Homo sapiens: one gene and its partner. The protein of the gene in region 1 interacts with the protein of each later gene in a biochemical or structural test. Each region holds a gene or a part of one and is shown on either strand. Other genes may lie near its edges.

Evidence for each region. Proteins that work in one complex are often made in the same cells at the same time.
Region 2: the proteins of SLX4 (region 1) and RTEL1 form a complex in vitro, tested with the Homo sapiens proteins (one study listed by BioGRID).

Annotation. Positions count from the first base shown.
Region 1 is NC_000016.10:3,601,598-3,608,619, forward strand, and holds part of SLX4 (structure-specific endonuclease subunit SLX4), read right to left. Parts: coding exon 6,833-7,022; intron 5,102-6,832; coding exon 4,877-5,101; intron 711-4,876; coding exon 521-710; intron 1-520. UniProt on the Homo sapiens protein: Regulatory subunit that interacts with and increases the activity of different structure-specific endonucleases.
Region 2 is NC_000020.11:63,654,276-63,661,322, reverse strand, and holds the start of RTEL1 (regulator of telomere elongation helicase 1), read right to left. Parts: upstream 3,012-7,047; 5' UTR 2,857-3,011; intron 2,091-2,856; 5' UTR 1,921-2,090; coding exon 1,819-1,920; intron 26-1,818; coding exon 1-25. UniProt on the Homo sapiens protein: A probable ATP-dependent DNA helicase implicated in telomere-length regulation, DNA repair and the maintenance of genomic stability. Acts as an anti-recombinase to counteract toxic recombination and limit crossover during meiosis.

The DNA of each region.
Region 1 (7,022 bases):
AGAATGGGAAAAACACAGTCTAGCCATACAATGAGATACTGCTCAGCCATAAAAAGGAATGAAGCCTGCTCCATGCTACAACATGGATGAACCTCAAAAACAACATATTAAGTCAAAGAAGGCAGACACAAAAGGACAACTGTGCAATTTCAGAATCGGCAAATCCATCCAGACAGAATGTTGATTAGTGGTTGTCAGGGGAGAGAGGGGCAATAGGGAGTGGCTGCCAATGGGTGTGGGGATTCTTTTGGGGGTGATGAAAATAATCCAGAAGTGATTGTGGTGACAGTTGCCCAACTGTGTGAATATCCCAAAAGTAGTGATTTGTTCAGTTTAAATGGGTGAACTATATGTTCTGTGAATTGTATCTCAACGAAGTTATTTTTAAAAAGGGGTAGGTTGACAACAAAGCTGAGGTGCTGTTGTCATGGTAAGGTGTGGAGATCCGCACTCCAGCCCTGGGGTGCTTGGGGATTCTGGTCACATACACGGGAGAGGCGACGGCCCAAGCTGCCCCCACCTGTTCACATGCTGTTCCCTTCGGGTCACGTTCATGGCTGAGAGGTTCTTTTGACAAATCTGGCAGAAGAACAAACCCTTTTCCTCCAGGCTATCATCATGTGCCGATGCTCCTACCCGTGCAAACTCCTGCTGCAGGGTCAAGGCCACCGCAGCGTCGCTCTCTGGGGCAGGGGGCCCAAGCCCATACACTGTGGAGAAGCACCAAAGATCCGTGAGAATAAACTCCAAAGACAAGCTCACCCTCAGACCTCTGCTCTGTCAGCTCCTGCAGACCATGGGGAGCAGGTGGAACGCAAAGAAACCAGAACCCAGCTCCACTCTGCAGGCTGGTGACTTGGACACTGTCCAGTGAGACTGGGCACTAATCAGCACTCCGGGAACAGCCGTCTCCAACTTTAACATGGATATGCATTACCTGGGAAGCTTGTCGACACTCAGATTCAAATTCAAGGGGTCCAGGTGCAGCCTGAGACTCTCCGCATTTCTAGCAGCCTCCAGGCTTGGCGATGCTGGCAGCACAGGACCACTCTGAGTAGCAAGGACCTAAACTTTCCCACTTCTGCTGAAGTTGGCTACCTCGGGCATTGCAAGTTCACAAGGCTCATATTCCAACAAAGCTAGATGTTCTCTTCAAAACTCACCCTTTCCTGCTGACCTTTTACTGCCCATGATAAAACCAGGGCAGAGTGAAATGCCTTTGGCGTTTAAAAGGCAGCATCTCTTACTTAGCATCAGACTCAAGAATGGACTGATTCTGGTCTTGAGATGGCTCCCAGGGTGGCCCATCTGATATTGCTGGAGCAGACCCCTGTCACTCACAAGGGATATGCCCTGAACGCCTCATAAATCCCCAAGTTCTTCATGGCTGTGGCCTACCAGTGCCTGCCACTGAGGCCAGCAAAACAGCACACCTTCATTTTGGTGCCCTGTTTTGTTTGTTTGTTTGTTTTTGAGATGGAGTCTCACACTCTGTCGCCAGGCTGGAGTGCAACGACGCGATCTCAGCTCACTGCAACCTCTGCCTCCCGGGTCCAAGCGATTCTCCTGCCTCAGCCTCCTGAGTAGCTGGGATTACAGGTGCCCACCACACCTGGCTAATTTTTAGTAGAGACAGGGCTTCACCATGTTGGCCAGGGTGGTCCTGAATTCCTGACCTCAGGTGATCTGCCCGCCTTGGCCTCCCCAAAGTGCTGGGATTACAGGCGTGAGCCACCGCGTCCAGCCTGGTTTGGTTTCTTAACAAACAAATGGTTTATCTCTTTCTGAGCACTTGCTGGGTGTGATGTGAAGATACAGAGAGAACTGAGTCAAATGCTGGGCAGGGGCGGAGCTCACACCAGCTGGGTGCCTCCTCTGCAACTCACATGTGCGTCCAGGACTGATGCCTCGGCAGGACATCAAATCACTGCCTGCTGTGGACCCTGGGGTGGCCTGAGACTCCTCCGTGCTACTGCAGTGAAATCTGCAATGCAATGCCAAGATCCTGCATACTTATTAGCTGTAGGTCTGCCGATAATGGTTTCTTCCTATTTCTTTTCCTTTTGTATATTTTCATCAGAGATGAGAATCCATATTGTTTTGGGGATGGAGAACAGGAGCACCTGGCATTATTACGCTTATTGGGCCGGTGCCACACCAAGTACACAGCAGCTATGGGGCACTGTCGCCACCCTGTCTCACCTGCAGCCAATGAGCCTCTAATCTACTCAGAGTGGGGCAACCCAATGGTTAGAGGAAGGAGTTAACGATCCCATAAAGAAATAAATCCAGAAAGTGGGAAATCTTATAATACAATTAGCCTAGCCTCTTCAAAAACTCAGTGTCATAGGGCTGGGTGTGGTGGTTCACACCTGTAATCCTAGCACTTTGGGAGGCTGAGGAGGGCAGATCCCCTGAGCTCAGGAGTTCAAGACCAGCCTGGGCAACATGGTGAAACCCCATTTCTAGTAAAAATACAAAAAAATTAGCCGGGTGTGGTGGTGGGTGCTTGTAATCCCAGCTACTCAGGAGGCCGAGGCACGAGAATAGCTTGAACCTGGGAGGCAGAGGTTGCAGTGAACCGAGATTGTGCCACTGCACTCTAGCCAAGCCTCTGTCAAAAAAAAAAAAAAAAAAAGTCAGTGTCATGGAAAACAAAAGGAAATGGGGGACTATTCTAGAATCTAGACCTTAGGATACTGCTGAGCTACAGCAATATGCAGTGTGTGAACTTACTGAATCCTTGTTCAGAAAAAAAAGAAACCAGCTACAAAAAATAACCTTGAGACAACCAGGGAAATTTGAGTTTGAACTGGACGCCAGGCACTATTATGGAATTAAGCGTGCTAATGGTATTGTGGTTATGCAGCAGAATCTAGGGGTAAAGGATCCTAATGTCTATAATTTACCTTCAGATAATATGGAAGAAAAATATGTACGCTTGGCTAGGCACGGTGGCTCACGTCTGTAATCCCAGCACTTTGGGAGACTGAGGTGGACAGATCACAAGGTCAGGAGTTCCAGAACAGCCTGGCCGGCATGGTGAAACCCCAACTCTACTAAAAATACAAAAATTAGCTGGACGTGGTGGTGCATGCCTGTAGTCCCAGCTTCCTGGAAGCTGAGGCAGGAGAATGGCTTGAACCCAGGAGGTGGAGTTTGCAGTGAGCCGAGATTGCGCCACTGCACCCCAACCTGGGAGACAGACCAAGACTCCATCTCAAAAAAAAAAAAAAATGTATATTTATAAAGACATAAACAAATGGCCAAATGTTAACATTTGTTAAATCTAGATTGAGGTATAGGGGATTAGGGGATTCATTGTAATTTTTTTTTTTTTTTTTTTGAGACAGGGTCTCACTCTGTTGCCCTGGAGTGCAATGATGCAATCACAGCTCACTGCAGCTCAACGTCCTGGGCTCAAGCAATCCTCCCACCTCAGCCTCCCGAGTAGCTGGGACTACAGTTGTGCACCATCATGCCCAGCTAATTAAAAAAAAATTTTTTTTTGAGTCAGAGTCTTGCTCTGTTGCCCAGGCTGGAGTGCAGTGGTGCAATCTCGGCTCACTGCAAGCTCTGTCTCCCAGGTTCACGCCATTCTCCTGCCTCAGCCTCCCGAGTAGCTGGGACTACAGGCACCCACCACCATACCTTGCTAATTTTTTGTATTTTTCATAGAGATGGGGTTTCACTGTGTTAGCCAGGATGGTCTCAATCTCCTGACCTTGTGATCTGCGCACCTCGGCCTCCCAAAGTGCTGGCATTACAGGCGTGAGCCACCACGCCTGGCCCCTAAAATTTTTTTGTAGAGATGGGGGTCTCACTATGTTGTCCAGGCTGGTCTCGAACTTGTGACCTCAAGTAGTCCTCCTGCCTTGGCCTCCCAAAGTTTTGGGATTATAGGCATGAGCCATCATGCCTGGCTTCATTGTAATTAAAACAACAACAACAAAAAAACCTTTTCTGAAAGGAAGAGTTCTTTGTGAATACTGAGGGTTATCTTTTTAAAAGGAAAAAACTGAAAGGGAAAGCTTTCATAATAAAAAGTCATAATTTTTAAAAAAAGGAGGCCAGGCACAGTGGCTCACGCCTGTAATCCCAGCACTTTGGGAGGCCAAGGCGGGTGGATCACGAGGTCAGGAGATCGAGACCATCCTGGCTAACAAGGTGAAACCTTGTCTCTACTAAAAATACAAAAAATTAGCCAGGCGTGGTGGTGGGAGCCTGTAGTCCCAGCTACTCGGGAGGCTGAGGCAGGAGAATGGCGTGAACCTGGGAGGTGGAGCTTGCAGTGAGCTAATATCGTGCCACTGCACTCCAGCCTGGGTGACGGAGCGAGACTCCATCTCAAAAAAAAAAAAAAAAAAAAAAAAGGAAGAGGGCCAGGTGCAATGGTTCACGCCTGTAATCCCAGCACTTTGGGGAGCTGAGGTAGGCAGATCACTTGAGGTCAGGAGTTCGAGACCAGCCTGGCCAACTTGGCGAAACCCTGTCTCTACTAAAAATACAAAAATTGGCCAGGTGTGGTGGCACACGTCTGTAATCCCACTGGCTGGGGCAAGATAATTGCTTGAACCTGGGAGGCGGAGGTTGCAGTGAGCTGAGATCATGTCACTGCACTCCAGCCTGGGTGACAGAGCAAGGCTCTGTCTCAGAAAAAAAAACAAAACGGTACCTTATCAAGGAAGCTAGGTGGGAAATGATCCCAGAGACTCTTCATTCTCTGGCTGGATCCAGTGAAGTGGCAAAGGTAAAACATCAAGCAGAGAGCCTATCCACAGAAGAAACTCAACAAATGCTGATTCCTTCCCGCCTCCCTTCCTCAGAGTTGTATTAACTTATCTCTGTGTGGAAGACAGAAACACACTCATCATACCATTCCCCGCCATCATCTCCTCTTGAGGATCCTTTGGGACATTTTCTTCCCGCGCAGCCTCGAGGGAGCACTCTTCTGAAGCGTGTCTCAAACGCTCGGGGTCTGCTCTCTTGAACTGCTGCATTCGCTGTAGGACCAATTGTGCTGTGCGGGGTTTGGAGGGACTTGGCACTGCTGTTGTCAAACAGGAAGGAGGAGGCTGGGAGTCGCTGTTGGGCACATTCTCTGGCAAGGAGGAAAATATTCACAACCATCTGTTGTAGCTGGAGAAATAAAAGACTTTTCTACCAGATACAGGTTAGACGCAAGTTTCAAGAGTCCTTTATCAACTAGTTTAGGTTTGACTCACAAATGTGAAGAGGACTGGTTGCTTGTTGGTAACCTCTTTGTTTATGGCAATATAGACATAAATATCAATAACAGGAGGGGAATGGGATGTGACTGCTAATGAGCATGGGGTTTATTTTTAGGATGATAAAACTGTTCTAACGTTAGGTAGTGGTGGTGGTTGGACAAGTCTGTGAATATACTAAAAACCACTGAACCATACCCTTTTAAATGGTGAATTTTATGGAATATCAATTATACCCCAATAAAGCTATTATTAAAGAAATATTAATGACAAAGGTTTATGTCCTAGATCAGTTCTTCTTTAACTTGGGATCCACGGATGATCTTCAGTGGGGATCCATGAACCCCATGAAGTTGTGTGCCAGTTTTGCAGATACGCGCATGGATACGTGTTTTGGGGGAACCATGCATAGATTTCATCCGACTGGCAAAGAGCACGAGAGACCAGTAAAGTTGGTGAGGCAACACTGCTGATGCCTTCCAGTAGTCTATGCGACCTGAGACTCTACCACCACTCTACTGAGAGGTTATTAAGATCAGGAAGTGAGGGCAAAGGAAATTTAGAAACAGAACTCAGGAGCTCAGAGAGCCCATGGTGTATTATATATGCAAGGGTAGTTTTCAGTTTTGCATGAAGAATGTGTAGTAAGCATATAGCTCAGTATACCAAGGGCAGCAGGGCAAGAAAACTGCTTTAAACAGTTAAAAAATTATCCAGGCACGGTGGTGGGTGCCTGTGGTCCCAGCTACTCGGGAGGCTGAGGCAGGGAGGACTGCTTGAACCTGGGAGGTCAAGGCTGCAGTAAGCTATGATAGCACCACTGCACTCCAGCCTGGGTGAGAGACCAAGATCCTGTCTCTAAAAACTAAGTAAGTAAATAAATCAATAACAATAACAAAGGAAAAGATTAAAAGGTCTTCAGAGAGAGAAAGAAAGAACCTGAAGATTCTCCTGGGACTTGAGCCCACACAGAGTCCTCATGCGGCCCTCTCAGCAGCCTATCCAAATTGGCTGGCCCAGTCCAACTTACCCACTTTGGAATAAATTCAAGAAAACAAGAGAAGCAGCATTATTGTGTTGTTTGTGTAACTCATGTCAATCATATAACAGAATTTCATAGGAAATTCTGAAAGAGCAGAGGACTCCAAACACAATCATGTGAAAAATTCACACGGGTTATGTTTTTCTTGACTGTTGTTTAAACCAGGAGTCAGCCGGGCGCAGTGGCTTACGCCTGTAATCCCAGCACTCTGAGAGGCTGAGGCACGAGGATTGCTTGAGTCCAGGAGTTCAAGACCAGCCTGGGCAACATAGTGAGACCTCCAGCTCTAAATTTTTTTTTAAGCTTAAAAATTAAAAAATAAAAACAAACCAAAAGTTAGCAAACTACGGTCATGTGGCTGGCTGCCTGTTTTTGTAAATAAAGTTTTACTGGCATATGGCCATGCCTGTTCATTTACATATTGTCCACGCCTGCTTTCTCACTATGACAGCAGAGTTGAGTAGTTGTGACAGAGTCTGTGTGGCCTACAAAGCCAAAATATTTACGATCTGGCCCTTTCCAGGAAGTTTTCCAGCCCCTGGTTTAAAAGAGTACAAATTACCTCTGGTTTTCTCTCTGGAAAGGTTTGGCGATGGTTCTTGCTGGTTACCCGTCTGGGTGTTTTGTGCTGTTTCCCGGAGCACAGGTGGATCTGGAGCAGAGGCAAGCACACCCCCCTCCCCATTCACAGAGTGGGCCGGTTCACTTGCTTGCCATTTGGTTACCCTTTGCTTTTTAGTCCTAGGGGCCTG
Region 2 (7,047 bases), on another chromosome or scaffold:
GGCTCTCCAGGATGCCATTCACCTTCTGAACGGAGTTCGGAGCAAGGGTTACGGGGAAGCCAGGAAGAGGCGAGGCCACACAAGCTGCCCTGAGACAAGCTTCGGCAGCCAGCGGGCAGCTCTTTGCAGATGCAGAGGCCACTGCCAGGTGGCGAGAGCCCTGTGGGACCGCGGAGAAGTCCACAGGCAAGTCCCACTCTTGCCCTAAAGGGCGTGAAGCAACTCAGCCGCCATTAGCAAACGATTTGCAGAACGTTACCCAAAACACGACACTATTTTTCAGCTTAAATAGTAAGATGACTAATTAGGTGTCAAGTCTCAAAATAGGAAACTGTTCTGCGTTTCTGGATCCAAACATTTATGCTGTCCTATCTGACGTCCTACATACAAGCTCTCAGACGGGAACCTGAGCAGGAAACTCGGGGAGGGGAAGGGTGTGAGCCGGGTACAAGAGGGCACCTCAAGGAACCCAGGAGAAGGCAACCTGCACCACTGCCACCTCCCTGCACCCCCGAGGTTCAAAGACCTTCCAAGTGAGGCTGGCCACCGGCTGCCCCTCTAATGGAAATGCTTCCTCCTGACCCGTGAATATCAGCTGCTCCTCAGAGAGGCCCCCAAGGCACTCCTAAGTCTGTCACCCTCAAGGACTGTAGGGAAAAGAGAGATCAGACTGTTACTGTGTCTATGTAGAAAGGGAAGACATAACACACTCCATTTTGACCTGTACCCTGAACAATTGCTTTGCCCTAAGATGCTGTTAATCTGTAACTTTGCCCCAGCCTTGAGCTCACAGAAACATGTGTTGTATGGAATCAAGGTTTAAGGGATCTAGAGCTGTGCAGAACGTGCCTTGTTAACAATATGTTTACAGGCAGTATGCTTGGTAAAAGTCATCGCCATTCTCCAGTCTCGATAAACCAGGGGCACGATGCACTGCGGAAAGCCGCAGGGACCTCTGCCCTGGAAAGCCGGGTATTGCCCAAGGTTTCTCTCCATGTGATAGTCTGAAATATGGCCTCGTGGGATGGGAAAGACCTGACAGTCCCCCAGCCCAACACCCGTGAAGGGTCTGTGCTGAGGATTAGTAAAAGAGGAAAGCCTCTTGCAGTCGAGATAGAGGAAGGCCACTGTCTCCTGCCTGCCCCTGGGAACTGAATGTTTCGGTATAAAACCCGATTGTACATTTGTTCAATTCTGAGATAGGAGAAAAGCCGCCCTGTGGCAGGAGGCGAGACATATTGGCAGCAATGCTGCTCTGTTACTCTTTACTCCACCGAGATGTTTGGGTGGAGAAAAGCATAAAACTAGCCTACGTGCACATCCAGGCATAGTACCTTCCCTTGAACTTATTTGTGACCCAGATTCCTTTGCTCACGTTTTCTTGCTGACCTTCTCCCCACTATCACCTTGCTGTCCTGCCGCATTCCTCTTGCTGAGATAGTGAAAATAGTAATTAATGAATACTGAGGAAACTCAGAGACTGGTGCCGGTGCAGGTCCTCTGTATGCTGAGCGCCGGTCCCCTGGGCCCACTTTTCTCTCTATACTTTGTCTCTGTGTCTTATTCATTTTCTCAGTCTCTCGTCCCGCCTGATGAGAAATACCCACAGGTGTGGAGGGGCCGGCCCCCTTCAAAGGACGATCGTTTTTACTTGTCAATCCTCTCTCTGACCCCACCTGGAACACCAGCCCTTTTTATGACAGACGCTGCCTCTGGCCCGGAGGGGCCTGGCTGGAATGGGCCGGGAGAGGGAAGCACACCCCGTCCTGGCTGAAGCTCCACCCACCCGCAGTCCTTTCCTCGGGGCCTGTGCTCTACCTGCTGCAGACATTCCAGGACCTTGGTCATGTACTCCTGTTGGCATTTGTAGGGCTGGAAAGGGAAGTCTACGGTCACACCATTCAGGACTATCTTGGGCATATCAGCCTGTTCTCAGAAGGGCACAGAGCGTGGCTGAGGGGCAGGCTATTCGGGTCTGTGCGAAAAAACCACTCCGAACATCTTAGGGTCTCGGGCACTCCTGGTAAGCGATGCGAGCATGTGCACTGGGACACAACGCTGTTCTCTTCGAGAATCCCTATGGCACAGACCTGGGAAAGACAGTAAGACTCTGTTTGTAGACAGCCTTTGTGGGTACCGGGCTACTTTCCCAGGCGTTTCCATCAGTCCCTCCTGCGGAGAGGGTTGGAGAGCAACCCTGGTATATCCCATCTCGAGGAGCTGGCGGGGCGAAGATGCGAAGTGGCTGGGCCTTGCCTTATCCTCCCGCCCCACAACTCCGTCCTTCTCTGGAAAAGACGCCCACAGTGCTGCAAGTTCCGCCTGCAGTAATTCCGCGACTTCCACAAGAGCGTGAGGGCTGAAGAGGCAAGCGGCACCCCTCCCGGCCTCACCAGGCGCAACGTCAGAGCGGAGGGTCTGAACCTCCGGCCCTGCCTCTCCAGCCCTCTGCCCTCCTGGCTGGCTGGAGTCCATTCCCCATCCGCCCGGGTGGGCAACCAGATGCAGCCAAAGTAGCGAAAGAGCATGCCGGGATGCCAACCCGTGCAGCCCTCAGCAAATCACTCAACTTCTCTAAGCCTCAATCCCGCCCGGGAACTGGGACTAACAGAACAGACGCGGACACACTGAATGTCGGCCCTTCCCTCCAGCCCCGGTCAAGGGCTCAGCCAACGCCGCGGCGCCAGCGCCACGAGCGCAGGAAACTACAGGTCCCAAAATGCAGCGCGGCCAATCCGCCGACCCGCGGCCCCGAGGGCGGCTTGGGGCCTGCCGGGAGCTGTAGTTTCGAAAAACCGCAACGCGCCTACGAGCCGCTCGGGTAAAAGAACCACTTGTAGGGTCACTGCGACTCACTGCTCACTTGTCTCCGCGGCGAACCTTCCAGAACCGGGGTCCCTCAGGAACTCAACCGACTCCAGTCGAGGGCCGCCACCCGTCCCCAGCTGTCAGCCAGCTCAGAGTTTTCGCGGGCAGAGGCGCGCAGTCGGCGCTGAGCCCACTGCACTTCCGCCCCCCACTTCCGGTCCGTTGCTTTGTGCTCCCGGCGGAAACTGTTCCCCCGCGGAGGGGGTCCGCCTGCTCTTCGGCTCCTCCAGGCCTACACGGCGTTTTGCGCGTTCTGTGTCCGGCTCCGCTGGCCAGTGAACCTCACTTCCATCGCCCACAGGCAGAAATCTGGGGTCCCGCCCGTCTCCTCCCTTGATGTCATTCCCCCACCAGGGTCTGCGTTCCACTACCGCCTCTCTAGGCCGAGCCACCACCATTGCCCGGAGAGCTGCACGGGCCTCCTCCCCAGAGGCATCTTTTTACTGCTCGAGTGTGAGCCGACCGCTTTCCTGAAAATTTGAAAACGGCTGCGCCTTGCCCAGGACCCGGCTCCTGAGAGCCCTGACCGCCCCCTCTCCTTCCTCTCCTGCGTTCCAGCTTCTGCTCGGCTCACTGTCCCGCAGTGGTCCCGGCGGGCCTCCCTGAGTCCCCAGCACCCGGCACTGGCTGGCAGCAGGGCTGACTCCAAGAGCGAGGCCCGCACCGTTCTGTGGGGTCAGCCCAGCGTCACGGATGTTTGTCTCAGGCGGCCCCAGCTCCCATGCCCCAGAAGGCCCCAGAAGGCCCCAGGAGGGAGTTGGCGCTGCGTGACCGCGCACGGCCGGCAGGCAGCACTTCTTCGTGGCTTCTTCATGGCTGTGTTTAATGTCCACTGACGGCACATGCGAATGCCATGCGTGCCCACGCTCCTGGGTGTGAGATAGTGCTCGGAGAAGCCCCAGCACTCACTGGCACCCAGCCCCATGTGCCTGTTGTGGTGAAGGAACTGCAGGCTGCCTATCTGAGACTCGGCAGGGAGTTGAAGATGAGGAGACCAGCCACACACACTCGTTGAATGAATGGGCACCAAGCACAAGTTTCAGTGCCCCCCATACATGCTGATATGGTTCGGCTCTGTGTCTCCACCCAAGTCTCACCTCGAATTGTAATCCCCACGTGTGGAGGGAGGGACCTGGAGGGAGGTGGTTGGATCATGCGGTCAGTTTCCTCCAGGCTGTTCTGACAGTGAGTGCTCAGGAGACCCGATGGTTTAAAAGTGGCAGTTTCCCCTTCTCTCTCTCTTTCTCCTGCCGCCATGTACGACCTGGGAACTGGGACTAACATAGACTTCACCTTCTGCCATGATTCTTTTTTCTTTGAGACAGAGTTTTGGCTTTTTGCCCAGGCTGGAGTGCAGTGGCACAATCTTGGCTCACTGCAACCTCCACCTCCTGGGTTCAAGTGATTCTCCTGCCTCAGCCTCTCAAGTAGCTGGGATTACAGGTGTGCACCACTAAGCCCGGCTAATTTTTTATATTTTTAGTAGAGATGGAGTTTGACCGTGTTGGCCAGGCAGGTCTTGAACTCCTGACCTCAGGTGATCCACCCGCCTCGGCCTCCCAAAGTGCTGGGATTACAGGCGTGAGCCACCGCGCCCAGCCAGATAAGTCCTCTCATTGTCCACACTTTCTGGGTGAGAAAGTGAGGCACAGAGCGTTGAGCAGATTGCCCAGAGCCTGCTCAGGAGCCAGGAGTTTACCTTTTGCAGCCACACATCTCATCTCCTGAGAGCAGTGGCCAGAAAAGGCTGTCCTGTGGACTGAGCTGAAGTCTGAGTCATCTGCTCCTTGCCAGCTGCTATAGGAGCGTGCTGGCCTGGGGTGGTCAGGAACTCCTGTACCCCTGCCCTCTTCCTCTAATTGCTGACGTACCCACAGCTCCAGCATACAGCAGGTGCTTGACAGATGTCTGTTGAATGACTGAGTGTCCTGCTGAGATATAGGGCTCCTTCTAGGAGCCAGAGTTAATTTCTTTCTTTCTTTTTTTTTTTTGAGACAGAGTCTTGCTCTGTCGCCCAGGCTGGAATAGAGTGGTGCGATCTCGGCTCCCTGCAACCTCCACCTCCTGGGTTCAAGCGATTCTCCTGCCTCAGCCTCCTGAGTAGCTGGGATTACAGGTGCATGCCACCACGCCCGGCTAATTTTTGTATTTTTAGTAGAGATGGGGTTTCATCATGTTGGTCAGGCTGGTCTTGAACTCCTGACCTCGTGATCTGCCCACCTCAGCCTCCCAAAGTGTTAAGATTACAGGTGTGGGCCACCACGCCCAGCCAAGCCAGAGTTAATTTCAAGAATGCAGAGGTCTGATAAAAGTCACACTTTATGAAAAACATTTTTTTTTTTGAGGTGGAGTCTTGATATTGTTGCCCAGGCTGGAGTGCAGTGGTGGGATCTCGGCTCACTGCAACCTCTGCCTCCTGGATTCAAGTGATTCTCCTGCTTCAGCCTCCAAAGTAGCTGAGATTACAGGCACCTGCCACCACACCTGGCTAATTTTTGTATTTTTAGGGTAGATGGGGTTTCACCATGTTGGCCAGGCTGGTCTCAAACTCCTGACCTCAGGTGATCTGCCCACCTCGGCCCCCCAAAGTGTTGGGATTACAGTTGTGAGCCACTGCACCCAGTCAAAACATTTTTTTAACTAGCACTAATGTGCATGTGAAAAACATCTTTGAAATGCTCGTGCACTTTCTGCATTTGATCTTGGTGAGAAGTCAAAATCTGCTCCAAGACCTGGCACTATATTGGGGCAAACAGTCAGTACAGCTATTGTGTGCCTGCCAGCATGCTGTCATTACTCCTATTGCGTGTGCCTGCCAGTGCACTGAGAGTCAGTACACCTATGGCATGTGCCTGCTAGTGTGCTGTCAGTACAGCTGTTGTGTATGCCTGCTAGCACGCTGACAGTCAGTATGGCTGACAGTCAGTACCCCATTGCGTGTGCCTGCCTAGGTGCTGACAGTCAGTACCCCTGTTGTGTGTTCCTGCTAGTGCACACTGTGCACATCTACTGTGTTCCTGGCACTATGCCACGGGCTTCCACACACCTGGTCCCTGTGCTCCAGATGAGGACACAGAGGCTCAGAGAGGGCCTGGCCAGAGTCACAATGAGTGTGAGGCATTGCGGTGCTCTGAGCCTGACTGGGTGGGTCCTACCCCACCCACATGAGAAGACTCTGGAGGTCCCAGAGAGGGCTACTTCTCTTGATCCCTAGCACCTGAGCTCCAGCACCCGGGGCTGGAGTCTGCCTGAAGGATGCTGACCATCCCCAACTGCTACTGTGGTGGCCAACAGGGAGGACACAGCTGCTGTGGTGGGCAGCTCTGTGTGCCTCTCTGCCCTTCTTCCTCCTTCGCAGAGCTGGCTTCCTAGGAATGGCCCAGGGGCCAACACCTCTGTGTGTATATTAGTTTGATATGGCTTCATAGCAAATCACCACAAAACCAACAGCTTAAAACAACTCTCATTCATTACCTCCTAATTCTTAGTAACCCAAGGCTGAAACCAAGTGGGCAGTTGGGCTCAGTTCTTGTGTGGAGGCCCTGGGGTCAAACCTGCCTCCAAGCCCATTCTCTTCTTGTTGGCAGAACTCACTTCCTTGCAGTTAAGGTCTTGTTGTCTTGCTGGCTGTTGGCTGGGAGCAGTTCTCAGATCCTTGCCACGTGGCCCCCTCATCTCAACAACAGAAAACCTTCTTTGGTTTGATCCCTCCGATTTCTTCAACCAGGCAAAGGAAACTGCTTTTAAAGGGCTCCTGTGATGAGGTCAGGGCCCGCCTGGTGATCCTCCAGTCTTAAGGGTACCTCTGGGCCACACAATGTCACATTCCTGGGCATCACCCCCACCAGACTCACAGTCCCGGGGATGATGCCGGCTTGCACGTCAGGGGTCAGGACTCTCCAGGCCACCCTAGGATGTGACTGGCCTTGGGTGCTCCCACCGCACTGCTAGAGCTGAGGCTTGCCCCTGGCTTTTGTGTTGCTGAGCCAGCCTCATGGCTCTGCAAGTCTCCTGAGGTTTTCAGGGTTTTGCTCCTGGCCCTATGACTTAGTTGCTTGTAGGGCAAAGCACTTTTCTCCCTGCCTCGGTGGCTTCATCCCTGCAATGGCAAAGACGCTCCGTTTGCCTACCAGGCTTTCCCTTTGGGAGTTATGAGGAGAGGGGGAGGCAGGATAGGTT